6 separate regions of the Homo sapiens genome follow, and all the other regions are reported to be linked to region 1. The links are microRNA targets in miRTarBase. Many come from high-throughput screens and were not tested one by one. Region 1 holds a microRNA gene; each other region holds the end of a gene's coding sequence.

Region 1 (5,090 bases):
CTCTCTGCATTTCTGGGAGACATCCTTGCTGTCCCTGCTCCGCCCGTGACAGCCACCATGACTGAGCCCACACTGGCCTCCTGGACTCCCACCTTCCGCATTGATATACGCCTTTCTTGGGCGCTCTTCAAGGCTTGGCATAGAAGAATTTGTATCAGTTAAGGGAAGAAGATAAATGCTAATTCTGTAGCTCCCAGATTTCTTTTTTGGAATCATTAAAATCCAAAAAAATTAGTTCCAACTGCTTATTGAACAGTGCCTGTCTCACAGCCCTATGTAGAAGTCACCTCTCTTAGACCAAAGTTGGTATCTCATCCTGAAAACCAGCCCCCTACCTGGCTGTGTGGTCTGGAGAGTCACATTACCATGCACCCTGGCTTGACACCTGGATGCATCCCTGGCCCGTCCCCCTGTGGCCCCCAGTCTAGCGGTCAGCCTGCTCGTCTCAGCTCAGAGTAACTGCATGGACCCCTTGCTTCCCGGCCTTACTCCCACGGCCCTAGTCAGAACTGTTGCACACCTGGCCCCTGGTAACAGTGTTCTTTCTGTCCAGTGTAACCACAGTTGACAACACCACCTGCTTTTTTGAGGCCAGTGAAGAAGTCCACAAGTGCCTGCCTTGGTTCTGCTGTGCTTGCAGCTGTCACGGGATCTGAAGCCAGCCCACTGCTTTCACAGAATGAAGCTCCAGCTCATCCACCCAGGCAAGCAGTGACCCCATGAGGCAGGAGAATAGGATCTGGAGGAAGGGAACCTAAGGCCGATTCACACCGACTTCCTAGAACTAAATCAAAAGGAAAACCCCAACTTTCCATGCCCAAGTAACACAAGGACCAGAGGCTACTCCCTTGCAACCCTGCCCCCTCCCACTTTTTCTGTGTGGCAGATGAAAAATTGAAAGTACCTCTGACTGGACCCCTCCCACAACCAATCAGGCTGGTCAGGGGCCAAGTCTTGCATAGGAGTATAACTTTGTAACTTCACTTTAGCCTCTGATTGGTCACTTTCTGCAACCAATCAGACATTTGCATAGGGTGTAACTTTGTAACTTTGCTTCAGCCTCTGATTGGCCCCTTCCTGCAACCAATCAGACTGATCAAAGGCCACTAGTTAATTTACATAGGGTGTACACCAAGTAACCAATGGGAAACCGCTAGAGAGTCTTTAAAGCGGAGAAAATTCTGTAACCGGGCTCAGGAGCCGCTTGCTAGGGCATGCTACCACCCTGTGGAGTGTACTTTCGTTTTCAATAAATCTCTGCTTTTGTTGCTTTATTCTTTCCTTGCTTTGTTTGTGTGTTTTGTCTGATTATTTGTTCAAGATGCCAAGGACCAGGACACCCTCAACCAGTAACACACACTCTCCTTCTTCAATGACGTTTGTGTTCCTAGAATCCATTTTCCTCAGTCAGGTACGTGTCCCCATCCCCACGTCTTCCTCGCTCTTCTTGACCTTTGTTTACTATGTCCTCCTACTTCCCCCTGGTTCCCCCAGACTCTCAAAACCCATGCAGTCCCCAAGGCTATCGGTCCTCCTCAGGCCCTGGCCACGAAGACCCCTGCCTACCGATCTTCTGTACTAGCCCAGCACGCGTGGACACATTCATCTGCACGACAGACATCATGGGGCACCTTCTGTGAGCAGGCGCTGGGGAGACAAGGCCAGCCCGCCTCAGTTCCCACGGTACTCAAGAGACAGCAAGCCAGGCCACCCCAGCATGGTGAGGTGGGCACTGTGTTCACCAACAATAAAGGCGGACAAAGGTTGGTGCAGTGGGGGCTGCAGAAGGGCCCCGGCCATGCAGACGGCAGCATGGCAGGCTGTTCCAGGCACACAGAGGGCGGCATGGCAGGCAGTTCCAGGCAGAGCTGCCTACTACACCCCAGTGGGCTGATTCATTTGGTGTTGGAAGAAAAGGGGAGAACAATTTTATTTTTATTTTGCTCTTCAGCAAAATCTATAATTTTGTGTTTATCTTAGGAAGTTTATAATAGTATATGTATATAATATTAAAATAATTAAATACACATATAATAGGGATTATCCCCAAAATATTTTACCAAAGAGAGACACATGTTCCAAAAACTCAGGAGGTATGAACTGTCTGCCTTAAATACCCTCATCACTAATTGTCCTTTTTTGGTCTCTCTCAACAGCACTACCTTCTCATCAGATATGAAGAATTTTCTTTTTCTTTACTCAGCACCAAATCTCTTAGAAAATACAAAACAGACACATGGCTTCGTCAGATGACATGGGTCCACTCTAATGGACTGCTCTAAAACTATCAGTTAAGGACGGGTGCATGGCTCATGCCTGTAATCCCAGCACTTTGGGAGGCTGAGGCAGGAGGACTGCTTGTGCCCGGAGTTCCAGCTCAGCCTGGGCAAAACGGTGAGACCCCATCTCTACAAAAAACACAAAAATTAGCCAGGCATGGTGGCGTGTGCCTGTAGTTCCAGCTACTCAGGAGGCTGAGACAGAAGGATCCCTTGAGCCCAGAAGTTCAAAGATGCAGTGAATTGTGATAGCGCCACTGCACTCAAGCCTAGGCAAGAGAGTGAGGCCCTGTCTCTTAAAAAAAACAAAATAAAAGCTATGAATTTAGGAAAATAATGTTCATTAACTACTAGTTTCAAACATGTCCCTATTCTTATAATATACTGTATCCTTGCAAAGCACCTCTCCTTTGTGTTCCTCTTCAAAAGGAAGCTGGAGAAACTGCAGTGAAATGACAATGACCATGGCGTGACGACGTGGGGGCAGTGGCCCTGGCTCCAGCTCAGTCACTGGCTGTGGAACATTAACCATGTGACAGGGCTGGAGCCAGGGTATGACCTTGAGCGGAAACTTAGGGTATGCTTACCTTGAGTTTATGCACCTCTAACGATGAGACTAGGCTACGATTCATATACTTGCTGCTGATGTAAATATCCTGCACGTGCTCCTTAAAGCGCAAGCACTGCCTGAGAAAATGTAGACCTGGAAGGGTTTTCTTCTTTTTATTTAAGCAATATCTTTCTATAGACAAAGCCATATGTATCTCTTCCCTATTGCTGCTATAACAAGCTATACAAACTCAGTGGCTTAAAACACCGAATTTGACCGGGTGCGGTGGCTCACAGCTGTAATCCCAGCACTTTGGGAGGCTGAGGTGGGCAGATTACCTGAGGCCAGGAGTTTGAGACCAGCCTGGCCAACATGGTGAAACCCCATCTCTACAAAAAATACAAAAATGAGCCGGGCGTGGTTGCGGGCACCTATAATTCCAGCTACTTGGGAGACTGAGGCAAGAGAATGGCTTGAATCCAGGAGGTGGAGGTTGCAGTGAGCTGAGATCACACACTGCACTCCAGCCTGGGCGACAGAGTAAGACTCCATCTCAGGAAAACAAAAACAAAAAGAAAAAAAAAACACCAAATGTTATTTTTTAATTTTTCTTTCTTTTTCAGACTAAGTCTCAGTCTGTTACCAGGCTGGAGTGCAGTGGCACAATCATAGCTCACTGTAACCTCAAGCTCCTAGGCTCAAGTGATCCTCCTGCCTCAGCCTCCGGAGTAGCTGGCACCACAAGCATAACCTACCATGCCTGGCTTTTTTTTTTTTTTTTTTTTTTTTTTTTTTTTGGTGTAGAGATGGAGTCTCACTATGTTGCCCAAGCTGGTTTCGAACTCCTGGCCTCAAATGATTCTCCCACCTCGGCCTTCCAAAACCAAAGTGCTGAGATTACAGGCGTGAGCCACCACACCTGGCCTTAAAACACAAATTTGTTACTTTACAGTTCTACAGGTTGGGAATCCAAAACTAATTTCACTGGGTGAAAATCAAGGAGGTGGCAGAGCTGTGTTCCTTCCCAGAGCTCTAGGGGAGAATATTTGTTTGCCTTTTCCATCTTCTAGAAGCTGCCCACATTCCTTGGCTTGAGGCCCCTTCATCATCTGGAAAGCCAGCAATGGCAAGTCAAGTCCTTTTCACATGGCATGGCTCTGATCTCTCTTTGGTGGTCACCTCTGGTTCTGAGCACAGCTGGGAAAGAGTCTCTGTTTTTAGAGGACTCATGTCTCCAGGCCTGCCTGGATGGTCCAGGATAATTTCTGCAACTCAAGGTCCTTAGCCTTAGTCATATCTGTAAAGTCCCTTTTGCTAGTAAGGTAACATATTCACAGGTTCCAGGGATTAAGAAGTGGACACCTTTTGTTGGGGGGCATTATTCTGCCTACCACATCTTTCATGCAATTAGACAAAACAAACAAAACAAAGCAGTGAATGTTTCAAAATAGGCGCAGAGTTGCTCACATGAATAAATAATGCATAATTTTCACCTGGGCACATGCTTCAACCTGGCCCTGGCTCACAAGTCTGGTCAGGCAGGACACCCAGGATGGTGCTTGTGGAAAGATTTACGCACAGAAGACTCATTCCCCTTCCTCAGCCACAGAAGCAAAGTCAGGTGTGTACCACACCTGCTAACACATAGTGCTTCTAAAGCAGCGCGCCGCTCTACTTCTTAGTTGCTAAATTTGTTTTGCGTGAATGGCATTTTGAATCCTCATCACGCAGAGTCAGCAGAGTGGTGTAGACCCCTCCACGGCTCCTGCTCAGCATCAGCAGCAGGCTCCTCATCCGTGCTTCCCCATGCCCAGGCCCTGCGCGTTCTGCAGGCTGTAGTCTTGGTCCAGTTAGGAGACTTGCCTTTACCACACTTTTCAGCAAGAAATGAATTGGCCTACCGAACTCACCATTAGGAAAAGCAAAGAAGTCATGAGAACACGTATGAATGACCACCACCATGGTGCTGGGATACATCATTTTCCAAGACCATTCATGGACCTGTTCACTCCATAGGCAAACACTGATTAAGTATTTGCCACATCCCTGGGGCAGTGAAGGACAGGAAACTCCCTGAGCATGGTCCTGCCTTCATGGAGCTTACCACCACAAAGAGCAAGTCAGACCAGCACTGAAATAAGCACACTGCACAGGGGAGCGGGGGCCCAGGTAGCGAGGCAGGGGGAGCCGCCTTCACAGCAGAGGGCCCTGGGATGCTTGGGGAGGGCCTGTGAACCACGGGGAGAAGTGGTGGTGCCGTG
Region 2 (5,090 bases), not on the chromosome of region 1:
CCCGACCCAGAGGATTTCTTAAAAAGATCTGTTAGCAGGATCTCACTGTGGGAAATTAGGAGCAAAGGCAAGCAGAAAACAGGTTTGTCAACAACTACAGAAACCACAGATTTGTGTTTCTGGCAGAGATAAAGGACCTGAATTTACCCTCCTGCCTGAAACAACTAAAAAACTAAGAGGAACAAAAAAAGAACATTGAACATCAGGCAATAAGGGAAAACGATCACCAAGAGATGAGACACAAATGAGGCAAGCTCCCAAATTGGCCTGGGCCTGCCAGGGTACAAAGCAGAAAGGGAGAAAACAGGCAGAGGCTGGTGGTTGCCCTAAGTTGAGGAAACGGAGTTTCTCTAAGAGTCTAGAGAGAACAAGGCAGCTAGACTTTGCAGGGCAGATATTGGAGGGGAGAGCTGCACAGGGTGTTCCCAGACCAAACTGAGGGTTGGGTTGCTATTTCTTGTGACCCAGTAAGAACATGTAGATGAACTGGGGAGGAAGAGAGTTTTTATTTCTGGAACCAGTTACAGGCAGAAGCCCTGGAAACTATAACCAGACCAACTCAAAATTACAGTTTTCCAGACCTTCTAAGCTATATGTCTATGTGTAAGTGTGCATTCATCTATAGACATTAAGTGGTTAACTTTTTATAATCTACAACTAAGGTCTTGAGTCCTGAAGACCTTCCTCTGGAGCCTCAGTAAACTTAATCTAAATGGGTCCAGGTGCTAGGGTGATTACCCCTGTCTCCTGCTAAATCAGGGAGGTTTGGGGATTCCTTCAGAACCCCAAAAAACTTGTTTAATCCTAAATGGGTCCAGCTAAGAATTCCTTCTTTTTTTTTTTTTTTTTTTTTGTCATGCTTTGAGACCTAGTTCTTGGTGGGTTTTTATTACATTCCAGCCTTTGTATAAGGGCTTTGGTTTTTTTAGCTTTTAGTATTTAACTTAGCCACTCAAGTCAGTACTGAAACAGTTGTTATGGAGGCCTGTGTTAATGAGACCTGGCCTGCCACAAGGTACACTCTGCAGCAGAATACTGATGAATGCACACACATGGTGGGGCAAGTACTCAGGCTGGGGAAAGAACCATCACAAAGGATTAGAGGGGAAATCCTTACAGTTTACAGAGGTAGGAATAATACCTGCTACCACCCACCAGAATGGAAAACCTCTGAATTCACAGGGCATCAGGTACACAAAGGATTTTGATTTAGGAGTCGGAAAAAACACTAGCCCTAACAAGTTGAAAAGAAAGATCCAAAAGTATCCAACTGGTTCTAAGTAACTTAATCCCCTCCCAAGACAAAACTCGAGAATATTTATAGGAACACAAAACATCCAGTACCCAATAAGGTAAAATTCACAATGTCCAACAATATCTTTAGTCTCGTTATGTTGCCCAGGCTGGTCTCAAACTCCTCGACTCGAGAGATCCACCCAACCTCAGCCTCCCAAAGTGTTGGGATTACAGGTGTGCACCTCTGCACCCAAGGTAACATTATTTTCTTAGGGTATGTTAGAACTCACCTGTAAGTCCATCTGGGGCTGATGTTTCTTTGTGGGAAGATTTTAAACTCCTTATGGAACTTGTTTAATCAGCCAAAATACTCCTAAAGAATTTGGTTGAGGGAATTGAGCCTCTTGCCCTAACAATCAGTAGGGCTTACTAATTTACAATGATGACAGTGTGGGACTGGCACAGGAACAAAAGAAATGACAGATGGAACAAACGTCTGAGCCCAGAAACACTCATACTCTATATATAGAGAAAGACCTGTGGGAAATTACTGAAGAAAAGAACTATTCAATAAATGGGGGTTAAATAACTGATTATCTACGGGGTGGGGGAGGAGGGGAGGAATTAGATACCTTACCTCTTGCACACATATACACAATTCTCAGTAAACACCTAAACATGAGAAGCAAAATTGTCAGCAGTGACAACACGCAAATTTTACAGCACAGGCAAATGAATGGCAAATGAACATGAAAAATTACTGATCTAAGGTCAGGAAAGGAGGTCAAGAAAACACAAATTAAAATTATGAGATACTTTTTTATATATGCTACATTAACAATAAAAACATTGCAAAGGGAAGTAATACTCAAGAGAATATCATCATTTTGGAAAATACCTGGCATTATTTTGCAAAACTTGACAAGCCAACAACTCCACTCTTACGCATAAAGTCTCTTGCATATGTGTACCAGGGGACAGTCAAGGATGTTTTGAGTGTACTGTTTCTACCAACAAAAACTAAAAACAAATGTCAACTGATAGGAAAATGAACACTTAAATTGTGGTATACTCACACAGAATACTATAGAGCAAGTAAACCATCCATGCATATAAGCGCAAGAATGAATTTTAAACATAAACTCAAAAAAGCAAGTTGAGTAAGACTTCACATTCAGACACTATATGTAGAAAGCTTCAAAAAATGAAACAGTATGTTTGGAGAACATACATGTGTGATTAAAAAATGGCAAGGAACAATAAAAAATGACATGGGGAAAGAGGTAAGAAAATAGGAAGAACATACATATAGGTAATTGGCAGCTTTCCATGTCTTTAGGTGTGATGAGTTTTTAAGTGTTGTTATTCATCATACCTTACAAGTAATATATAATTTTATCTATATATCAATCATTACACAATATAAAAAAAATCTTTAGAAGATGCCTATCTCCTAATGAGTCAGTGAATGGTGGGAAAAGTCCATTTTCTATAGACTAAGGCAGCACACTTTTTCTGCAAAGGGCCAGAGAGTGAATAAGTTAGGCTTGTGGACCATATACTCTCTGATGCAACTATTCAACTCTCACGTTGAACTAGACAGCAGCCATAGCCAATATGTAAACAAATGGGTACAGCTATGCTCCAATAAAACGTTATTTATGAAAACAGGTGGACATCTGGATTTAGCCCATGGAGGATATTTGCTGACCTCTGGTCAAAGCTAACTGTTTAAAGTTTATGTTCCATTATTTGCCATTCCATTTCTTTTTAAATTTTTATGGGTACATGGTAGGTGTATATATTTATGGGATACATGAGATATTTTGATACAGGTATGCGATTTATAATAATTACATCAGGGTGTATCTACTGCTTCAAGCATTCATTTGTGTTACAAACGTCCCAATTACACTCTTTTATTTTTAAATGTATAAAGTTATTGTTGACTGTAGTCACCCTGTTGGGCTATCAAATACTACAACAAATTCGTTCTAACTATATTTTCGTACCCATTAATCAACCTCACTTCCCTCCCCATCCCTTCAATGCCTCCCAGCCTCTGGTAACCATCATTCTACTCTCTATCTCCTTAAGTTTGATTATTGTAATTTTTAGCTCCCACAAATGAGAATATATGAAGTGCCATTCCATTTCTTAAACAAAGCATAGACTGTCTGTAAGCTATTTACCACTTCACTTTTATTTCCATTTTAACAACTAGTACATTATCCTTGGCCTTAGGAAAAGCCTCCATCAGTTCTATGTGTTCCCAAAATATAAGCTCATGTGATAACGAGGTCAGGCAATTCAGTTTTTTAATTCATAAAGTGCATTCTTCAGACAGCTTCAAATAATGTCTAATTAAGTAGCCACTAGAAGATCAGAAATTATTAGAATGGACTACAGCTATGAAAACTAATACCAATCTCTTAAATTCAATAAACAAAAATTAAATACCATTAGGTATTTAGTTACATAGTTTTTTAGCCTATGTAAGTAAATAGGGCTGTGAATAGTCTGCCTTCTGCCAAAGTGGAAACCATAATGCCTATCCACCATGGATTACGTCTAAGGTTTTCATATTCTTTACCCTGATTATGAATAGAACCTTTCCTTTTTAATAACTTGTCTTTTAATATAAATTCCAATGACCGAATCCCAGAATAAAAATGTTTACCATTAGTAAACTCAATTGTTTATATATATTTTTTTTACAAGTTTTAACCTTTTGGAAAAACAGAAGCAGATATGATAAAATAATTTCTTGAAGTACTTTTTTAATCCAATTAAGCTGATAATAATCACTTCGAATTTTAATACAATACAATCATGTTCCCAAATTTCCTAGGCTCATAACAATACAGTCTCAATACAAAAGACGTAATAATCTATTTTTATTTATTTTAAATCAAAGAGACCATTCCATTTCCTAACAAACAGGTAAGTTACAAAAGTAGTCCATTTTACTTTTCATCAGTCTTTCCCTGTTTTGAACAAGTTTTTTTGAGAATTCTTAGTTTTAGTTTTTGTTTAGCTTACACACTGAAAATTTTGAGAAGCATCTAAAAAAATCCACAATTAGTGCAAAAAGAGGGGACAATACTTTAAGTCATTCCTTCTATAAAAAGAATTAAGGTTACTAAATGCCAATTTTTAAGCAAATATATAGTTTCCTATTTGCCTTCTGAAAGACAGCAGATATAAAAATAGTTCAATATTAGGTTTAACAAGGTTTGAACAACACATGTACTATCAGCTTTATTTTACCTGCAAAAATATTTTAGCTACACTTGGAAAAAAATAAACTTGAGAATATAACTTCACATTTCTAAGGCCAGATGCAAGAATACTTATTCTTTTCCTTTTAAATAGAAGACATGCCATAAAATTTATGAAAGTTAATTTGTAGGAATGAATACATTTAAAAAATACTGGTTAATCTGTGAGGAATTCCACATTTGCCTATTTAACAAAATTTCATCCATTTCATAAGGCTTTGGTATAAGTGATTCCCAGCACTTCATCATTTATCTTTCTTCTTTGCCTCCTTTACTTCCTTCGTCTGCTCATCCTTCTCCCCTCTCACGTTGACATTTGCTGCTCCTTCTTGATTTTCCCTCTGAGAATTATCAACTATCTGATAGTCCTCAAGGAGAGTGTGTCCTGTTTGTGTTGCAGTTTTCTTCACCATTGCTTTGATACCAATGTTGTTAATATTGTAGGCAGTTACGCCAACATTGACCGCAGAATCCACCGCATGGTGGGTAGCTTCTCCTGCATTATATCCGTATCTTTAAAAGAAAGATTAGAGGACATACAATGAAACAATAAATATAAAATAAGGTCTTCTG
Region 3 (5,000 bases), not on the chromosome of region 1:
CAGGCGCCCTCCATGATACCTGGCTAATTTTTTGTATTTTTAGTAGAGATGGGGTTTTACTGTGTTAGCCAGGATGGTCTCGATCTCCTGACCTTGTGATCCACCCACCTCGGCCTCCCAAAGTACTGGGATTACAGGCGTGAGCTACCATGCCTGGCCCCTTTTAGTATTTTCACCATCAACAAAAATAATGGTGCCAAGCTTAAATATTTTTTCTTTTCTTTTCTTTTTTTTTTTTTTGAGACTGTAACCACACAATGAGTTCTCCTTGTCTGCTGCCTAGACAGAGCCAATTTATCAAGACAGGGGAATTGCAATAGAGTTTAATTCTTGCAGAGTTGGCAGTATGGGAGACCGCAGTTTTATTTCTTGAATCAGTCTCCCTGAAATGTCAGGGATTGTGGTTTTTAAGGACAATTTGGTGGGTAGGGGATCAGAAAGTGGGGAGCTGCTGATTAGTTGGGTCAGAGATGAAATCAAAGGGAGTCGAAGCTGTCCTCCTATGCTAAGTCAGTTCCTGGGTCGGGGCCACAAGACCAGATAAGCCAGTTTATTGATCTGAGTGATGCTAGTGGAATCATCAAGTGCAGGGTCTGCAAAATATCTCAAGCACTGATTTTAGGTTTACAATAGTGATGTTATCCCCAGGAGCAATTTGAGGAGGCTCAAAGTCTGGCAGCCTTCAGATGTATGAATCCTAAATCATAATTTCTATGTTTCAGCTAATTTGTTAGTCCTGCAAAGGCAGTCTAATCCTCAGGCATGAAGAGGGCTTCTTTTGGGAAAGCGCTGTTACCATCTTTGTTTCAAAGTTAAACTATAAACTAAGTTCCTCCCAAGGTTAGTTTGGCCTATGCCCAGGAATAAACAGGGACAGCTTGGAGGTTAGAATCAAGATGGAGTTGGTTAGGTCAGATCTCTTTCACTGTAATGATTTTCTCATTTATAATTTTTGCAGAGGTGGTTTCAAGACAGGATCTTGCTCTGTTGTCCAGGCTGGAGTGCAGTGGCATGATCATAGCTCACTGTAATCTCAAACTCCTGGGGTCAAGCAGTCATCCCACCCCAGTCTACCAAGTAGTTGGGACTACAGGTGTTCACCACCATGTCCAGCTAATTTTTAAATTTTTTCTTTTGTAAAGTTGAGGGTCTCACTATGTTGCCAGGGCTAGTCTTAAACTCCTGGGCTCAAGTGATCCTCCTGCCTCGGCCTCCCAAAGTGCTGAGGTGTGAGCCACCGTGACTGGCCTTTTCTTTCTTCTAATGTTATTATAGATTTCTGCCCTTTAGGGACTGAGTGGTGATTTTGGTTCATTTACTCATGAAGACATAATAGAATCAAAATTAGACCAATGCAGTTACAGAAATACCAGGGCTATAAGTGGTTACAACCTCTTTCTTAAAAAACAAAAGGTATCTTTTTCAACTTTTTATTTAGAAAATTTATTTTATTTAAAAGGTATATATATACATAAGTCCCAAGATATAAAGTTCTAAACATAGATTTAAAAAGAGCAAAATGGAAAAAATATAAATATTTGCTGTTCCTGTTTATATCTTTTGTGCATTTATTGTCTTTTCTAAGGTTGGCATTTTTCTTTATTTTGCAATTTGATCCATACTTACAGTAAAAAAAAATCTAAATATTATAGAAAGGTATAAAGCAAAAAGTAAGAATTCCCTTCACTCCATCTTCTCCTCAGATATTGGTGAATCTCCTCCCAAACTTTCAACCACATAGATGCATTTTTGTTTTCAAACCAGAAAGCCATTAACACTAACTCTTTAAAGGCTGCGGCTGAATTGGCGAGATGAAGAATTATGTAGATTAAGGCTGCTGTCTCCCTATAGAATTTTTTGAGGGATTCCACCTTTTTTTAAAGCACATCCTTCCTGTTCCACACACTGAATCTGCCTGGTTTGTCTCAACTTGCTTTTAACTATTAGGCCTGTTTGGCAGAGGCAATATAAATTTTTAAAAATGTAAGATGTTTAAAATGCCATTAGCCTTTAGCACCTGGAATTTGAGGCAGAAAGGTATGAGTTAGGCAACCTTTCTTGCCATAATCCCAGTTTTGACAAGCCTCAAACACAATGTACAATATTTAAGACACAAATTCATTAGGTATGGGCTCAGGACAGCTTGCTCTTATTTAATACTTGCGTGCTTGTGGTTTTGCACAATGGATGGGTATTAGAGTTTGCCTTGGATACTTGGCATTGATTAGACTGTTCTGAAATTTGGTTATGCTTAGTCAAAAAATTCTGTTTATTGTTCTTCAGCAAGAATAGATGTAACCACTTTAAAAATAGTTACATTGTTTTCCAGATTAAGTAAATATTTCAGTTAGGAGAATACATATTTTTATTTTTATTTTCAGTTTTTGAGATGGAGTCTCACTCTGTCACCCAGGCTGGAGTGCAGTGGTGTAATCTCAGCTCACTGCAACCTCTGCCTCCCAGGTTCAAGTGATTCTCCTGCCTCAGCCTCCCGAGTAGCTGGGATTACAGGCAAATGCCACCATGCCTGGCTAATTTTTGTATTTTTAGTAGAGACGGGGTTTCACCATGTTGGCCAGGCTGGTCTCAAACTCCTGACCTCAAAAGATCCGCCCATCTCGGCCTGCCAAAGTGCTGGGATTACAGGCGTGAGCCACTGCAACCGGCCAGAGTACATATTTTAAAATTTGGAATGAGGATAGCTCTTGTTTTAGAACATGCACTTTAGTGAACTGAACCTTGGACTGATGGTTACAAGGAGTATGTAATGAGCTTTCAGGCTATGAGTCCTAAATCCTGACCCTGTCCTAAAAGAGAAAGGAAATTTCCAAAGTCTTCATCGTAGCAACGACACCCACTGAAATAGAAAAGTGGTGGAGTGAGGAATGGATGCTTGCCTTTGTTCTTGGCCTATTATTAGTGAATCCCAAGATAGCAGGCTTCCTGAAGATTGTTGTAGAGGTTTTCAGTGTTTTCAAGGATCCCCTTTTCAGCTTAAAAATAATGAATGCCTTTCACCTGACTACAGTTATCTTTCACCTATTCAATATAGAGATAATGAATGATGCCTATAGCATACCTTCATCTATGTTAATAACTGTATTGTCTTTGATGGGTATACAACTCAGATAGATTTGGAATTACTAACTTAAGGTACAATTTCTCCTTAATGTTGTCTCGGGCTTTGGCAAAATTTAGTTTAAAGGATATGAGTAGTGCTTTAAAAAATATTCCCTCCACAGTCTCCATGCCACCTTTAATAACAGAGTCATTCTCTTCTTCCTTAAATATCCTTATCAGACCTTCTAAAAGGAAGCTGTTATTAATGAAAGCCAAAAGCAGCTTGTAAGAGGAGAAATTATGCAGTGACGGGGGGCGGGGGGACAACCCTGAACAAATATTTTCTCTTCATAATTGGAAGTGGAAGAGAAAAAGTGAACAGGGGATAGAAATAAACCAATAAAATATGTAAACCAATAAATATGTAAACAGTTTTGCAGAGGCTGATTTATATTTTAGCAAGTCTCTCTATCGGCTATGATCCCCAAGTTTTCTTTTTAGAGAAACTATGATGCTGATAATAGCAGTTTTTACGCAAAAGATATTAATATTCAATGATATTTGGTAATGCTTGTTCAAATACAGGTTGAACATTCCTCATACAAAAATCTAAAATCTGAAATACCCCAAAATCCAAAACTTTTTGAGTGCTGACACCACCACTTGGGTCGCTAAGATAGTGACACCTTTGCTTTCTGACAGTTCAATGTATACAAACTTTGTTTCATGCACAAATTATTAAAAATATTATATAAAATTACCTTCAGGGTATGTGAACAAGGTATATATAAAATATAAATGAATTTTGTGTTTAGACTTGGATCTCATCCCCAAGATACCTCATTATGTACATGCAAATATTCCCAAATCTTAAAAAATCTGAAGCCTGAAACACTCCTGGTCCTAAGCATTTCAGATGAGGGATACTCAACCAGTACTGCTATATCCATCTACATATATAAAGCCACCGGGAGAACTAGTCCACTTGGTGCAGTCTTCTATACTGTCCTTCACAGCTTAGATTCAATCTTTCCTTAAAGTGTAGCCGGGATACACAGGAGTGTGATTCTGGGCTGACTCAAAGTTCTTCTCTTGAAGGCTTTTTCCTGTGGCACTGGCAGATGGCTGTGCTATCTTCTGGCTGAGGAACAAGTTCCATTCCATCACGTACTTCGGGTTTGCTGGACTGGCGCTCGGCATATTTCTGAAACGTGGGTTTAAAGGGAACTGAAAGGTTAGTTCACACTGCATTCTGTTGACTCCCCCACCCACTCCCATCCGCAGTCACGCCATCTTTTCTAGTTGCTGTGTGTCTGCAGACTAAAACCAAAGGTCTGGTTTATTCCAGTCCTAAAGTTACATTTTAACTTTAGCTATCACAGGCACTAGTTATAATTCATAATCTAGCAAGAAACCCCAATCCACAATTTTATGTGTTGGTTGGAAGCCTCTACAAAAGGGATGCCAAGCCAGACGTCCCTACCTGAAACAAACAGCAGCTCTCAGCATTTATTTTCCACTTGTTATTGAATAATTAACTTTGTTGAATACTCAAGCCAGCAAACAAACAAGATAACCATCTGAAAAGTTGGCAGTCTCACACATTCTTTCTTTTAGGCCTATAGTCACACGCATTTTTGAATGGCAACAGGTCTGTGTAATGTTCCTCCACTGTGGCCCTGAGTGAAATATTTCTATAAATGGAGTTTTTTTTGTTTTTGTTTTTTTTTTTTTTTGAGACACGGTCTTACTCTGTCACTGAGGCTGGAGTGCAGTGGCGTGATCTTGGCTCACTGCAGCCTCCAACATCCTAGGCTCAAGTGATCCTTACACCTCAGTCTCCTAAGTAGCTGGGACTACAGGCGCGTACCACCATGCCCAGCTAATTTTTTTCATTTTTTGTAGAGATGGCGTTTCACCATGTTGCACAGCCTGGTCTT
Region 4 (5,090 bases), not on the chromosome of region 1:
AGGGTCAATTCTTAACAGTAGAGGAAAATAGGAAAGCGTGTCAGTGGTCCACCAGGAATACTGAGGCATACCTGGGAGACAGAGTAGATGGGATCAGACTGATAGAGAAACCCAAGGAGACAAGACCACAGCTCAAATCACTATAGGCGAGAGATGCTGTCTGAGACAGAGACTTACTCTGTCGCCCAGGCTGGAGTGCAGTGGCATGATCTCGGCTCACTGCACCCTCCGTCTCCCAGGTTCAAGGGATTCTCCCGCCTCACTCCCTGCAGTAACTGGAATTCACAGGCCAGCCACCACTACCGGCTAATTTTTGTATTTTTAGTAGAGACGGGGGTTTCACCCTGTTGGCCAGGCTGGTCTCAAACTCTTGATCTCAAGTGATCTGCCTGCCTCGGCCTCCCGAAGTGCTGATATTACAGTGTGGGTCACCGCGACCGCCCAGGAGACGCTCTTTGTAACAAAGCCTCTGAAAATCTCCAAACCCTGAATCAAAGAAAACACGGAGCTGGAAAGGGCCTTAGGAAAATCATCATGTAAGTTAATTTAAAAGTTCATCAGAAACGTCTGAATCAGCCAGATTCCCCTCCAACACCACAGACAGATTGGCTGGCAGTAGCCACTTTTGCCTCTAAGATGAAACTCTGATAATTATTCATTAAAGAAACTGAAGGCCTGGCGAGGTGGCTCACACTTGTCATCCCAGCACTTTGGGAGGCTGAGGCAGGAAGATTGCCTGAGGCCAGGGGATCCAGAACACCCTGGGCAACATAGTGGATGCCGTCTCTACAAAAAAATACAAAAACCAGCTGAGTGTGGTGGTGTGTGCCTGTAGTCCCAGCTAGATCGGAAGCTGAAGTGGGTGAATCCCTTGAGCCTGGGAGATCGAGGCTGCAGTGAGCAGCCTCGATCACTGCATCACTGCACTCCAGCCTGGGCGACAGACTGCGATACTGTCTCAAAAAAAAAAAACACGAAAAAGAAATGTATCAGGACTTGGTGTAACTTCAGCCCTTCACAGTAATAATGAAGTAGAGAAACACATTTGTGGAGAGGGGACCATGTTCACTCTTTATCCATGATAGACAGATAGTCGGGAGCTTTATATACCCAAGGAACCTAAGGAAAAATGTTCCCTGTCATGACTCACAATCTTCCAGCCACCCTTCCTTGCACCTGTCTTGTGGGCTGGGGGACCCAACTTATGGATCCCATCATCCCAGGGAGAAAGAAAAGTCAAATCCTTCAGTATCTCTTTTAGGGTATTCTCTCCTCTTTGCATGGAGGATAAGGCACTCAATATCTAGTATCGGAATGTTACATTTGTGTAATACAGAACTATATTGGGATAAAATAGAATTTGTTTCTTCTGAGACACAGGTAGAGGCACGTCCACACTGACCTGGGTGGAAGCCATCTCTTCCTGAAGTGCCAGGCAGGGCATGCTCACAGATCTGGGGAACCTCTGTTGCTCCTGGAGCCCCACAACCTCCTTCCTGGCACCCTCTCCCTCTGGTGGCTGTGACAGCCCACACTTGGCCTTGGGTATCCCCTGCTTCTTTGCCTGCCCCTCTTCTGCCCACCCTGCATATCTCTGTCTCCCACTGTCCCTGCTGTGACCATGACCGCCTCTCCCTCCCCGCACTCTCTCTCTCCTAGGGCTCCTTGTCTTGGGAAAATGAACCCACAGCCTCTACCTTGCAACTGGGGACAGAACCCGGAGTTTGTTCAATTCTCCCTCCCTCCACCACACACACCTGTCCTCCTTAATGTTTCTGAAGTCAGTGAGCTCCAAACTCAGCTCCTCCTGCACCTGCCAGCTGTAGGACCTGTGACAAGACACCTACCATCTGTCTGGGACTCTATCTCTCATCTATCATATAGGCATAATGATCATAGTGTTCTCCTTCCAAGGCTGGGGAGAACCAGGAGGCCAAGGTGATGGGGTATGAATGGTCAAAACAGCTCCAATCCTGCCTCCACCTGGGGCTGCTGTTTCAAGTCCGTTGTGTTTCAAGCATTAATGTCTCCATTCACACACAATGGTTTGTTCTAAAACAGACTCCCCTCTGCCCTTCCCTTCCCCACAACTGTTTCACCTCTGCACCGTGCAGTGGTACCTGTGAGAAAGAACTGTCCCATTCCCAAATCATCGTCTCCACCCCAGCCCCCAGGCCCTTGGGTGGTGAGACCCTTGATGGGCAGTCTCATGCTTCTGTCCAGGGGACTTTCCCACCGTTGCTCCCCCGCATGGAGACTAAGTGAACTCTTCTATTCCCTGGCCATCACAGGGTCTACAGTGCACGCATCTTCCCCATCCCTCTGCATTCCCCAGATGATGATTTCATCTGTGTCTCCTACCACATACTCCCAAATGGACCGTCCCAGCCCTAGAACCCGAAAATCGTTCAGAGAGCAAAGGCCAAGATTCCCAACCACCTGCTGCAGAATACTGCTCCAGGACTGAAGTGTATAGTCTCTATCAAAATAAAAACTGGAGGCCAGTTGCGGTGGCTCATGCCTGTAATCCCAACATTTTAGGAGGCCAAGATGGGAGGATCGCTTTGGCCCAGGAGTTCGAGACCAGCCTGGGTAATATAGGGAGACTTTCTTGACAAAACCTGAAAAAATTAGTGGGTCATGATGGTGTGTGCCTGTAGTCACAGCTTCGCTGGAGGCTGAGGTGGGAGAATCGCTTGAGCCCAGGAGATCAAGGCTGCATTGAGCTATGATCATGCCACTGCACTCCAGCTTGGACAGAGTAAGACCCTGTCTCTAGAAAAAAGCAAAAAAAACCCAACAACTGGAAACATCCTCCTCTAGAATGGTGGTCAGGAACATCTGTCTGCCCTGTTCCCTGATGTCTCTTCAGCACCTATAACAGCGCTCAGCACGAGGACGCACTCATTAGGGTTTTGTTGAATAAATGACTCCTTTGACACAGCAATTCCACTTCTAAGAATCTTTCCTAAAGAAATATTCACACAAGTGCACAGAGCTGTGTGCACAATAATGAGAGGAGCAAACAACTGGGGAACGTTTGCAAAGGTTTATTAACTGGCAGTGACTGATAGAGGGGAATCGGATGAGGGGAGTACATGCTGAACAGGAAACAGAGTGAGGGGGGCTTGACCAGGACACATGGGGAAAAGCAGTTGGGAGATGCCTATACTGGTACTTGGTGTGTGTGTGTGTGTGTGTGTGTGTGTGTGTGTGTGTGCGCGCGCGCGCGCATGTGTGTCTGTGTGGCATGTGTGTGTGTTTGTGTAAATGCAGAGGAAAAAATCTGAAATTAAACACTCAGAACTGCCCTCAGTGGTCACATCTGGGAAGAGAGGAGGGTAGTGTTGTTCTATGCAGAGAATACCTGACGATACTTGTTTTCTGAGGTAGGTGCATGGATACACAAACTGAAATATGCATTAAGTATGTCTTGCTCATCAGTGAAAACGCTAATATCTAACAGAATGGCACACTGTAACAAAATACAACAGAAACACTAACATCGAACTCTTGGCACACTAAGAAAAATGACGCTCAACTTTTCACTGTTGTGAACACTTGCTTTCACTTGCTATACACCTGATGACGAGGGATCCGCAGCCATGCCCATGTTCGTGAAAGGTCACCACGTTCTGCTTCTCATCATGGGCATGTGTCATATCCCCGAGGCTGAGGCAAGAAGCGAGAAGGAAAGTAAGTGGCAGTGAGTTCCCACCACATGACAACTCAATCTCAACTCCTCCTGACCTGCAGACCCTGCCCACTCCGATTCTGCCCTACCTCAGGACCTGTACACGCCTTCCATGGTTCCTTGAAGTGAACCATCTGCTCATACCACAGTGACTTCCTCGCCTGGGTTATCAATTCCTAGGCTAGAGGAAGGTGTGGCCCGCATATCAGTGCTGACCTGGGGTTTGGGAACCCACAGCATCCTGGGTAGGGAGGATCCCTGGATATAGAGGGCAGGGAGTAGAAAGAGCATGGTTAGGCAGGCGCAGAGGCTCACGCCTGTAGTCACAACACTTTGGGAGGCGGAGGCAGATGGATCACGAGGTCAGGAGATTGAGACCATTCTGGCTGACATGGCGAAACCCTGTCTCTACTAAAAATACAAGAAAAAAAATTACCCGGTCGTGGTGGCGGGTGCTTGTAGCCCCAGCTACTGGGGAGGCTGAGGCAGGAGAATGGCGTGAACACGGGAGGCGGAGCTTGCAGTGAGCCGAGATCATGCCACTGCACTCCAGCCTGGGGGAACAAAAGGAGACTCCCCCACCCACAAAAAAAAACATGGGAAATTTCATCATTCAGCCTCAATGCTGTACCCTAGAAAATTATGAGAAGGGAATGATTTGGGGAACAACTGATAAGATGGGATACCAGTACCATAACAGAATAGCACATCTGCAAGGATGTGGGAGATGAGCCAAAGGTTCACTTACGGAGTTACTCGTCATCTTCCTGAGGGTCGCTGATCTCTTCATAAATCACCAGTTGCTTTCTCTCACGCACTCTGTGGGTCCAGGCATGTTTCCCCCTTTTGGGTCCTATGATGGAGAAGAGTTGGAAGATGAGGGTTGGGTAGATTGGAGAGGGTTGGGTTGATTGGAGAGTGTTAGGCTCTGTTTTCTCCAAAAAAGGAGATGCCTCCCCACCACCAAGTGCCCATGGGTCTTCTTTATCCAGTTTTTCACATTCTCTGGCTTAGAGAGGCTGAGACCTTAGACCCACACCAATACAGGCCAAATGCAAATTAAAGTTTTAGCTTCTGGCTCCTTCCGTTGTCAGGTTTAGATTCCCAACCTCTTCACTTACGGGAACATTCACCCTTACCTCCTTTCATTCAGCACGTATTTATTAAGGCCACACAGGCGTACCTTGTTTTATTGCACCTCATTTTCATACTGCTTCACAGATGTTGCAATTTTTTTTTTGGAAATTCTCACCAATTTTACACTTTTCCATTATTATTATATCTGTTATGGTGATTTGTGATCAGTGAGCTTTGATATTATTACTGCAATTGTTTTTATTGTTTTTTAGTCTTTTAAAATAATTTCTGTTTTTTATTTTTGTGGGTACACAGTAGG
Region 5 (5,090 bases), not on the chromosome of region 1:
TACTCGGGAGGCTGAGGCAGGAGAATGGCATGAACCTGGGAGGCAGAGGTTGCAGTGAGCCGAGATCATGCCACTACACTCCAGCCTGGACAACAGAGCGAGACTCTGTCTTGAAAACAAAAAACAAAAAACAACCCCCCTCCACCCAAAAAAACCCCCACTATATCTTATAAAGGAAAGTCTTATAAATTCCAAGCTTCTTTAGGACCATGTTAGGCAAACTCTTCTTTTCAGGAAAAGTTAATGTTGATGTGTCACATTCTTTTCTAAGTGCGAACTGTCTTAGAACTTACCCAAGTCAGTGAATGAGTAGCTGGGAGAAAGGGGTATGTGGCCAGCCATTAAAGTCACCCAACATACAAAGGAGCAGGGGCCAGCAGAGCTTCCCCTACACCCCAAATTAGGCTGCAGGTCATATGCAAAACCTAGGAGGCCAAACAGGATTACTTGTTTGTGTAGGGACCTGGCTGCCAACAGGGACCCCACACAGGGTGGCCTTGGCCTCCAGGGCCCTGCAACACCTAGCGGGCTCTGCTGTGTCCCAGCTCCGTGGCACCCGGCAGCCTCCCAGGAGACAGCCAGGCAGGAGTGATGATCAGGATTGTGTTCAGTTTTCAGCATGTTTCCATGTACCCAAAAGTTAAGAGTCCCATCTACCTCTATAGTAAAACAAAATGATAGTAAATACATTCCATAAAAATGTTTTTCAAGCCATCAGTTTTGTTTCCGGCCTTATCTGTCAGTATTCCTTTCAGGCACATTCTGAGATTCACAACTGTGTTCTTTAAACAGCCAAAATTCCCTCTTCTCCAGCATGAGCTGGAGGGTCAAGGGGTGATGGGAGCTGGTGGCTGCTGCAGAAACAGGTTCTTGCTGGGCCTTCCAACTCACTAAGCAGGCTGTGGGGCCTTGCTCTCCATGCTCTTCTGCCTTCATACTTGCTGAATCCGAAGGCAAGATCCTCTCCGATGTTACCTCTTGTTCAATAAACCTGCAAATTCGCGATACTGCCACCTCTAGTCGCCCTGGGATGTCCACTGCATCACCCACTTAGCACAGGCCCATTATGACTCCCTGAAGCACAGGCTTCCAGCTCAGAGGGCAGCGCACTGTCTCCACCCCTGCCCAATGATCCACTCAGACCCGGGAGGCTGTGGACAGCGCGTCCTCTGAAATGCTGGTCTCCACACCTGCCTGGGGCTGGGGCACCATGGGTGGATAAAGAAACTGACCAGCAGAAAGTGACTATTCTGCACGTGCAGGCGTGCACACAAGGTAATTACCCACAAGCCTGCAGAAACTCACACGAGCACAACTGCCTCGCTTTCCCATTCATATGTGTGGCACAGCTTACTGGCTGGTGCTAGCATACTACACATAAATACATTTATAGGAAAATAATTAAAATGCTGAAGTCTATCTATTTGAACTTCTTCCTCATCGGTAAAGCTGGGAAAGCTCACTACTGTGTAGCTGGTGCCAAGGAGCAGCCTGAGACCCCGCCTGCAGCTGTCCCTAAGACTTTCCTCTCCCCATACAGAAACCAGTTCTACTTCTTCACTGTTCTTCTTTCTTCCCTCTGGAATTCAGGGGTTAAATCCCTTCCAGGGTATTTGGATGCCTGCAGGAAGGAAACTGGAGAGAGGGCCCAGCCCTGTGCAGCACAAGGCTCCCTGCTCAGTGTGGCACCAGTTGGGCAGCCGTCAACATCTGTGCCAGTGTTGCCACCTGGGCAAGTCTCTGTTCCTGGGGCATGTCCAGGTGCAACATGAAGAACATCGTCATCCTTTCTCGCCTGGTTCACTCCATCGCAGGATGGAGCCCACCAGCAGGGAACCCAGACTTCCTTGACCCAGATGGTGGCTGTCCCTGTATGAGGGCTCTTCAGAAACGCCAGGACAGGCCCAGGGCATTTTCAGGAGCTCTTAGCAAAGCAGCCTCAGTCCGTTTCCTGGCAATACCCTACACTAAACCAGCCTCTGGGGAGAGACCTGTGGCAGGGAGGAATGCAGACGCCCTGCTGGCCTGTCTCTGACCCCTCACATGCTGCACTCATATTAATTTTCCAGGATTCCTGAAGTCCAGCCTCAAGGGATATGTGACAGAAAAAAGGGAATCAAATGCTCTTTTGTCCTATGGGCAAACTTGCTTTAATTTAAAGCACTGTGAGGGCTGAAGGCAGATGATCCTGTCTCCAAGCATGGACTCTGGCCAGAACCCCCTGGAGGGCAGAAGGCAGGGAGCTGTCTGCAGAAGGGCCAGTGGGGTCCACCCCCAGGGGCAGCAGGGATGGTCACGAAGGAAACCATGCCAGGAAGGGCAGGTGGTGGACCTCAGAGAACGGCACAAAATCGTAGCACCCAGACACGAGGCAAAAACTCCTATCTGGTCAGATCCTGATGCACTCCAGGTCCCTGTCTGTCCTGGAGCATTCGTGTGACCCAGCAGTGTCCTGGAGACAACAATGAGGCTGTGGGGGACAGCGGGGTCCCGAATGTTCCTTCTGTATATTCCCATTGACACAGAAAGGTCATAGTGCATTTCTCAAAGCACTGCCAATCTAAATGGTCAGGGGGGGTCTGATAAGTATATCTATATCTGATATGGGGCCTTGCTTTGTCACCCAGGCTGGAGTGCAGTGACACGATCATGACTGATTGCAGCCTCGACCTCCCGGGCTCAAGCAATCCTACTACCTCAGCCTCCTGAGTAGCTGGGACTACAGCTACGCAACTGTGCCACCTCAGAGAAGTAGATTTTTAAACAAACCCAATTTTCTCTTGCTGTTAACAACACTGAAGACTAGTAGCAGAGGAGTGAAAGTGTGGGTTAAGAGCCTTAAAAACTTGTGGAAAGGGCTCGATGCCAGTGGAGAGCACTTAGTTATTTCAGTGAGAAGAGAGCACCTAAACCTGGGTCTGAAAACACATGAAAACTCCAGGCCTTGCTCCCGGCCCTTCTGCACATTGGGGGCGGGGCCAGAGCTCCACTGATGGCCTTGCTCATGACTTCATCTAGAAACTGAGCAACAGGATTTCTAGATTTCAACGCCCAAAGCATCCACCCACCCACAGAGACCATCACACCAACACAAGCATGAATACAAAGTGAAAGCATGTTCTTGGCATGAAAACCATCTACTCACACCCCACCTTGCTCCTAAAGTAGCAGAACCTGTTCCACCAGCCAGGGGTTTATACTCCCTATCTTAATGGGATTAATGGTTTTCATGGGGCCATAATAGACTCCAATTTAAGAGATTTTCAAGAATTGCCATAGAATGTTTTGTGGTGGTTAAAAAGGTCTTCCTCAAACTGTTAGAAAAAGCAAAATTGTTAGTATAGGTTTACTTTAACCAGGCTCTTTTAAAGATAAATGCTGCAAGATAGGTTTTCAGAGCTCAGATTAATTAAATGAGAGTTAAGATCGGAGTCTCAATAAACACTAATGTGCTGTTCTCATCAGATTCTGACATCCTCTGTACTTTCTTCTTGACTTAACAGGGGTCTCCTCTCAACCTTTTCCAAAGCAATGTGACGGTTTCTTTTCCAAAAGGTAAAAAAAAAACCCAAACCCCCAAACCTTCCCCCATTTTGAATGATTCCTGGGGGGAATTCATTTGTTTTTTGCAATCAGAGTCTGAAACCTGGGCTGCAGGTCAACAATCTCGAGCAGTTATGAAAAGACCAGGGTTACTGGAGACCAAGAAAGGAACGAGCGGAGGAAGGAAGGAAGGAAGGAAGGAGAGGGGCCGGGGATTTTGTGCAAGATTTAATAAAAAACAAACAAAAATAGGAATGGTTGCTTTCAACATTTTCCAGGTTGTGAAAGGTTTGCCACGACTCTCAGGGGTGTGGTTCTAAGCTGCATCAGTGGAACAAATACAAAATGCTGTCCTCCTCCTGGGCTGGAAGGCAGTGCACTTTCTCCTCTTAACAGCCAGACTAGCGGGTGAGGAGTCAGTGCTGTGACCCAGGCCAAGCTGGAGTGTCCGCATAGCTTTTTCTCTGACCAGTGGGGATTCCATCTACCTTGAGGCGTGCTGGCTGGGCCCCGTTTCCACACCAGCACATGGTGAGACAGGGTAGCTTATCAACAGGCTGCTGGGCCTTAATACTGACAGTGAGTGTGGCGGGTCACAGCCAGGAAAGGACTAACACAGATGCCCTCCCAGCCCCCACTGCTGGCCTAATTTTAGAATACCACGGAAAAAAGCTTTGATGAAGACAACAGGAAGTCAACACAGCAGAGAGTGGTGTGGACAACCCAGAAGCCAGCCTCACGCATTCCATGCCCACAGTTAACGATGACAACAACAGCAATAATAATAATAATAATAAAACAAAGGTACAGGTGAAAAGCAGCGCTTGGGGTGTGCTGCTGCAAGCTGGGGAAGGCGCGTGCTCAACTTGGATGGGACACACCTAGTCTTTCTTCAAGTCCCTGGATTCAAAGAGCTTCAACCGTTCTTGCACCGTCAGGCCTTCCTTCAGACTCTGGGTAGAGACAGAGCAGGAGGAGAAAATAAACACACCGTTAGACCCCCTGCACTGGACCGGACCGGACCAGACCGGACCGCTGGTGGAGCCGGCATCAGTCAGAGAGCCGGGTGCAGGTGCGGTTAGTGGGCATGCCAGGAGGAGAGTCCCCGGGAAATGCTGTTATTGGAGGATGTTTTCCCCTTCACAAAATTACTTGGATGAAAAAGGAAAAAAAAATCAGAGAGACAAGACCATGTGTTTAAGCAGCTAAATTCTGAGCTTAGGGCTCTTTAGAGAAGCAGTGATCAAACGAATCCAGCCAGGGAAAACAGTGCAATGAGCAAGGAGACTGCCCATCCCCGTGTCTTGTCTTGTGAATGGATTTGTCCACATCCAGCTCCAGAGATTCTTCACCTGACAGCCTCAGCTGAGGAGGACCAGATGCTCCAGGGAATCCCCAGCAGGATGGGTGTCCCGGGACAGGGCCTCGCTCCTACAGTGCCTCCGCAGCACCTGCTGCCCTCAGACCCATTTCTGGCATTCCCTCATCAGAGGCCTGTGAGTGTTATGGGGATGTGGGAACACGCCAACGTATCTAGTAAGATTTTC
Region 6 (5,090 bases), not on the chromosome of region 1:
AGGGGCTTCATAACCTTGATCAAAATACGGCAGCGCATCCACCACAACCTCTCCAGCCACCAAACCTGTGCCCGCCATTCTGAGGACCTCAGGTTTGCCTGCGTTTTCTGCGTCTGCGTAAACTCAGTTATATTTAATTACGCCGGCGCCTGACACTGATGTAATCACGTTCCCTCCGTATTGACGTTAGTGCATGCTCAGTTGCTAATTTTGAAGGCGGGTCCGCCCGGTATCTAGAAATTGCCGGGCTGGTTTGTTTTGGGCGGACGTGACGTAACGTCTTGGCTTGTCTGCGTCAGCGAAAGGCCTCAATTTCCTGTCCTCTGCTTACTGCCCCTTTTTTTGCCTGCGAATGGCGGCGATTTGAAGTTGGGGCTTTTCGTTTCCTCCAAAACATTGATATCTGGAAAGGGAGCCCCTTAACACTTTTGGAGGGAACTGGCTGCAGCATTTGGCGGGGAGAGATAAACTGGTTTCCCACCTCTGCTTACTCCCACCTTCTCCCCTTAATCTTCTCTTCCTCTGTGCGAGACTTTTTTCCTTTTTTATTGTAGACACAGGGTCTTTGTTCTGCTGCCCAGGTTGGAGTGCAGTGGCGTGATCATAGCTCACTGCAGCCTCAACCCCCCGGGCCCAAGCGATCCTTCCACCTCAGCCTCCCGAGTAGCTGGGCCTAGAGGTGCACACCACCATGCCTGGCTAATTTTTAATTTTTTTTGTAGAGATGGAGCCTTTCTATGTTGCCAAGCCTAGCCTCGAACTCCTGGCCTCCCAAAATGTGGGGAATACAGGCGTGAGCCACTGCACCCCGGGTCATTCCTCTTTTACTTCCTTGCTGTACCCCAACTATCCTTCCCCCTCGGTGCCCTTAAAACCTTTGCATTGGGTAAGTACATTTTTTAAAGAGACTCTAGAATTGGGCGCCAGTCTCCAATTAAAATTGTGAAGCTTTATGGTCTGCGTATCAAAAGGAACCTCAGTTCCTTAAAAATCCTGTCATTTTGCCTTTAGGACTTAACGGTAATAGAATGGCATTCCTCACTGCCTCCGAACCACTCAAGCTGCTGCCCATGCACTCTCTTCTGCATGGCTCCTGGACTAAGCAGCCTCCCTTTGATTAAGCAGGTAAAAACCAAATAAAGTTGTCAGACTATATGCCCTGCCCAGTGTGCAGTCTAGACCCAGCCTTTGTCTGCCAAGAGCCTGGAAATGTTGACCTCCGTTATTAAGCCTGGTCAGTCTAAGACTAATTCTTATTACCGAAGTACCATTAGGTAAATGTGCTAGCTATAGATTTAAGTGACATAAAAGATCTTAAAGAATTCTCCAAGGGATCTGTGGGGGGTTTATGTATTTATTCATTAAAAGATCTGTAAACAACATTTTATACAAATCTTGATTCTTTTACAAAAATATCCAGAATTCCTAACACTTTACAGAAAACACAACAGACCTAAGGAAATGAAGCAGCTTCAGGCTGCGAGGATGAAGACACCATTGCTGAAGCAAAGGTCTCCTCCTAGAGGGATAGCCAGGATCCATCACAGTAAACCCTTTTACCCCCATTTTATAAACATCCAATTATTAACTGTTCCTGCTGGGTTGGAGTGTAAGAAGAGACCAAATGGAGAGATGTCTAGTAGAAGCCCCACTGGGGGTAACCTGCTTAACATTAAAAAAAAGACAGGCTCAGTTCTATTCCCTGGACCCACATCTGTAGGAATTATATTATACAGCACCAGTCTTAAATGGTGTTCTGCTTCAGATTCATGCATACCTGAATGGGTTGTAATGACAATACTGTACAAGTCAATAAACTGTATCACAATACAACTTACACAGTTTTGTAAGGTTGAATAAATACTTTCTGTGCCAGTTAAAACCATCAGCAGAAACTGAAGAAAACAAACTGACATTTGCTATAACATTAATCAATGAAAAGTGCACCATCTGAACTTGAATTTGCCCATGAGTTTGAAAACACACACACACACACACACACACACACACAGGCCGGGTGCAGTGACTCATGCCTGTAATCCCAGCACTTTGGGAGGCCAAGGTGGGTGGATCACCTGAGGTCAGGAGTTCGAGACCAGCCTGGCCAACATGGTGAAACCCCCGTCTCCACTAAAAGTACAAAATTAGCCAGGTGTGGTGGCGGGTGCCTATAATTCCAGCTACTCAGGAGGCTGAGGCAGGAGAATTGCTTGAAGCCGGGAGGCGGAGGTTGCAGTGAGCCGAGATCACACCATTGCACTCCAGCCTGGGCAAAAAGAGCGAAACTCCATCTCAAAAAAAAAAAAAAAAAACCGAAACAAAACACACACACACACACATACACACACAAAAAAAACACTGCACCATCACTGAAAACTTTCTCTTTCCAATCACTACTACTACTACTTTAGATATTAAAGGTCTGGATGACTAAGTGGTATATGTTCAAGGAATGTTCATATTTTGAGTCTAATTTAATTAGAGCAAAAATTTCAACATTTCTAGGGGAATAAAAAGAGTCTCATCTAGGCACCTATAAAGTTCCTTATCCTCAGAGCTGAAAAGTGGCTCTGGTACACTTAATAGAAAATTTTTATTAATAAAAGAAATAGCTATATAATCCTACTGAGATGAAATTTCCATCTGTAGGACTAACCAACTTTTTCTGTGTCCATAAAAGTCTTGGCTTCAGTTCTGTGTTGTACAACTTTGGGCAACGTATTTAACTTCTTTGAATTTGTTTTTTTCTTTTTTCTTTTCCTTTTTTCTTTTTTTTGAGATGGAGTCTCGCTCTGTCACCCTGGCTGGAATGCAGTGGCGCGATCTCGGCTCACTGCAACCTCTGCCTCCTGGGCTCAAGCGATTCTCATGGCTCAGCCTCCCGAGCAGCCAGGATTACAGGCACCTGCCACCACACCCAGCTAATTTTTTGTGTGTATTTTTAGTAGAGACAGAGTTTCACCATGTTGCCAGGCTGGTCTCGAACTCCTGACCTCAAATGATCCACTCGCCTTGGACTCCCATAGTGCTGGGATTACAGACGTGAGCCATAGCACCCAGCCTCAGTTTATTAGTAAAATGGAGATGCAAATATCTATCTCATAAGGTTGATTTAAGGATTGGTTGAGATGATATGCATACATATACCACAGTGCATGGCACATGGTGGACACTAAAAAATAAAGGTGGCTCCCATGCCCTTGAAAGGACATTTTCATATTAGCTATAATTTCACAAAGTTTAAATTTATTTACTTATTTTTAAAATGTTTTTGTAGAGATGGGATCTTGCTATGTTGCCCAGGCTAGTCTCAAACTCCCACCCTCAAACTCCTGCCTTAGCCTCCCAAAGTGGTGGAGATTACAGGTGTGAGCCACTGCATCCAGCCTCCACAAAGTTTAATGTTGACATGTGAGGCACAAGCAAACTACTCAAATGCCACATAATTTGGAGGAGGAGTTGCAAGATGTCTAATTTTATAAGGTACTTAATAACAGTACCTTATAATATTACAAGTAGGGCTTCCTCCTAAGTGAGATTCCCCTAGATATAATATAAGGCAAAACAATGGAGATATGTGATGAGTCTATTCCTTAGCCCAGGTCAAACAGCCCATGGGTTTAAAGGGGCCATGATAGTTCAGTGATGAGAATTATGTGTATAAGGCTAGTGTTCTCCATTTCCATCATGTCTCTCTACTACCTTAAACTCAGCATTTCTCTCATTATTCTCATCTTTGAGCTATTTTTTAAATGTAACAACAACAAGGCTTTTCCTTGTGAAACACAACTACTTTCACAGACAAAGCACAAAACAGAGAATGAGCCCAAGAATCACATAGAAAAGGCTGCTATAAAAAAAAAATGGAGACAGAGTAAAGATGGCATGGTGCCAGACCATTCCCAACAATTCTCCAGTGATTACTACAGCAGCAACAGGAGAATCCTCCTCTAACAGCCTGACTCGCTCTTTAACCTTTTAAAATTTCAAGAATTTTGTAGAATACTTCATGGGATCCTGACCCTTAGAAAAATATTTTCTTTGGCACTTTCTGTTGTATATTCAGGATGGAGACAATCAGAGATTTCATTTCTTTTGCAGAAATTTCATTTTGCTTCCTAAAGGGAAAGAAAAGTACAGTGAATGCTCAATTCATTTTTATTTATTGTACATTATTTGAGGTAAGGGATTAACAGGTCAGTCATTCAGAACAGCCCAAGAGTTAAGCTGACATCTCAAACTCAGTTGATGTGTTTAACCCCCAAAACAAAAACAAAAATGAACCCCAAACCCCATATGTCTAGTTAATTGTAGCGGCAGAAAAGAACTCAGACATCATGTAATCCAGTGGTTTTCAACCTTGACTATAGGTTAAAATCACCTGGCTTCTCCCCAGAGATTTCCTGGAGCCCAGGGGAAAATTTTTTTTAAGTTCTCTGGAAATTATAAAATGTAGTCAGAGCTGGGAACCACTGATCTAATCTAACCCCATTGTATAAAGATGAAATAACAGCCTAAGGCCTAATTTGTCCATGGTCTGTCAGCTAGTGAAGGACAGGGCCTAATTAGGGGGCATATATTTCAAAGACAAAATATAAATATCGTAGCATATAGGTTATTCATTATTTTAGGCTAGCCACACCCCTGTTCTCTTGTATCATACTAATTAACTATTACTGAAAAATCATAAATGTGTTTCTGTATGAAGTAGAAAATTAGAGACTTGTAAGAAATCCTCTTTTGCCTCAGAAGTCCCTCTAAACCAAGTGTTTTTAATCTGGAGTACCAAAGATAGACTTCATGGGGTATATGAGCAGCCTAAAATTATGTGCAAAATTTATTTATATGCTGTAAATACATTTTTCTGGGAAAAAGGACCATGGTTTTTATAAGATTCTCCAAGGAATGTGTCCTAGAAATGATTAATAATGATGATATGCAAACATATCATGAAATAAATAAACTTATATCAGGGAAGTTCATCTCTGGGAAATGGCCCCACAGACCACTCTGATGAGGGATCCCAAATTTTGAGAAAAATGCTGCTTTTTCTCCAAAACACTTTGAAACTAGCATCATGGTTTATGGTC

Evidence for each region. The annotated mature microRNA hsa-miR-5190 reads CCAGUGACUGAGCUGGAGCCA and lies in region 1 at 2,773-2,793, opposite strand. An mRNA with a match to its seed (bases 2 to 7 or 8) in the 3' UTR can be bound and repressed. Matches are read on the target gene's strand: a 7mer-m8 pairs with bases 2 to 8, a 7mer-A1 pairs with bases 2 to 7 and ends in A, and an 8mer does both.
Region 2: miRTarBase lists SPART as a target of hsa-miR-5190. Seed matches in the 3' UTR shown: 7mer-A1 at 2,698-2,704.
Region 3: miRTarBase lists POGLUT3 as a target of hsa-miR-5190. Seed matches in the 3' UTR shown: 7mer-m8 at 3,364-3,370.
Region 4: miRTarBase lists SSX5 as a target of hsa-miR-5190. Seed matches in the 3' UTR shown: 7mer-A1 at 3,441-3,447 and 7mer-m8 at 3,062-3,068.
Region 5: miRTarBase lists MPRIP as a target of hsa-miR-5190. Seed matches in the 3' UTR shown: 7mer-A1 at 2,889-2,895, 7mer-m8 at 2,637-2,643 and 7mer-A1 at 299-305.
Region 6: the mRNA of DENND2C is a reported target of hsa-miR-5190. Seed matches in the 3' UTR shown: 7mer-A1 at 3,640-3,646 and 7mer-m8 at 2,021-2,027.

What each region holds. Positions count from the first base shown.
Region 1 is chr18:13,457,696-13,462,785 of GRCh38, reverse strand. MIR5190 (microRNA 5190) reads right to left here and starts at 2,839; the gene lies at 2,760-2,839. The region is part of intron 4 of LDLRAD4 (low density lipoprotein receptor class A domain containing 4); the gene reads right to left. RefSeq lists an enhancer at 882-1,176.
Region 2 is chr13:36,299,603-36,304,692 of GRCh38, forward strand. SPART (spartin) reads right to left here. Exons shown (of 9, transcript NM_015087.5): 9 at 2,036-5,030. The coding sequence ends at 4,763. Among named protein-coding and RNA genes, the nearest start is that of CCDC169-SOHLH2, 4.3 kb to the left of the region's middle.
Region 3 is chr11:108,470,689-108,475,688 of GRCh38, forward strand. POGLUT3 (protein O-glucosyltransferase 3) reads right to left here. Exons shown (of 8, transcript NM_153705.5): 8 at 1,428-4,264. The coding sequence ends at 4,139. Among named protein-coding and RNA genes, the nearest start is that of C11orf65, 5.7 kb to the left of the region's middle. RefSeq lists an enhancer at 2,777-2,921 and a cis regulatory region at 2,849.
Region 4 is chrX:48,183,185-48,188,274 of GRCh38, forward strand. SSX5 (SSX family member 5) reads right to left here. Exons shown (of 8, transcript NM_175723.2): 7 at 4,443-4,547; 8 at 3,036-3,672. The coding sequence ends at 4,447. Among named protein-coding and RNA genes, the nearest start is that of SSX5, 11 kb to the right of the region's middle.
Region 5 is chr17:17,184,229-17,189,318 of GRCh38, reverse strand. MPRIP (myosin phosphatase Rho interacting protein) reads right to left here. Exons shown (of 24, transcript NM_001364716.4): 24 at 1-4,496. The coding sequence ends at 4,425. Among named protein-coding and RNA genes, the nearest start is that of PLD6, 20 kb to the left of the region's middle. RefSeq lists enhancers at 2,931-3,000, 3,031-3,230, 4,018-4,518.
Region 6 is chr1:114,581,514-114,586,603 of GRCh38, forward strand. DENND2C (DENN domain containing 2C) reads right to left here. Exons shown (of 21, transcript NM_001256404.2): 21 at 1,337-4,118. The coding sequence ends at 4,087. It overlaps BCAS2 (BCAS2 pre-mRNA processing factor), which reads right to left and starts at 102. Exons shown (of 7, transcript NM_005872.3): 1 at 1-102. The coding sequence starts at 78. LOC105378914 (a long non-coding RNA gene) reads left to right here and starts at 330. Exons shown (of 3, transcript XR_947719.4): 1 at 330-886; 2 at 1,012-1,125.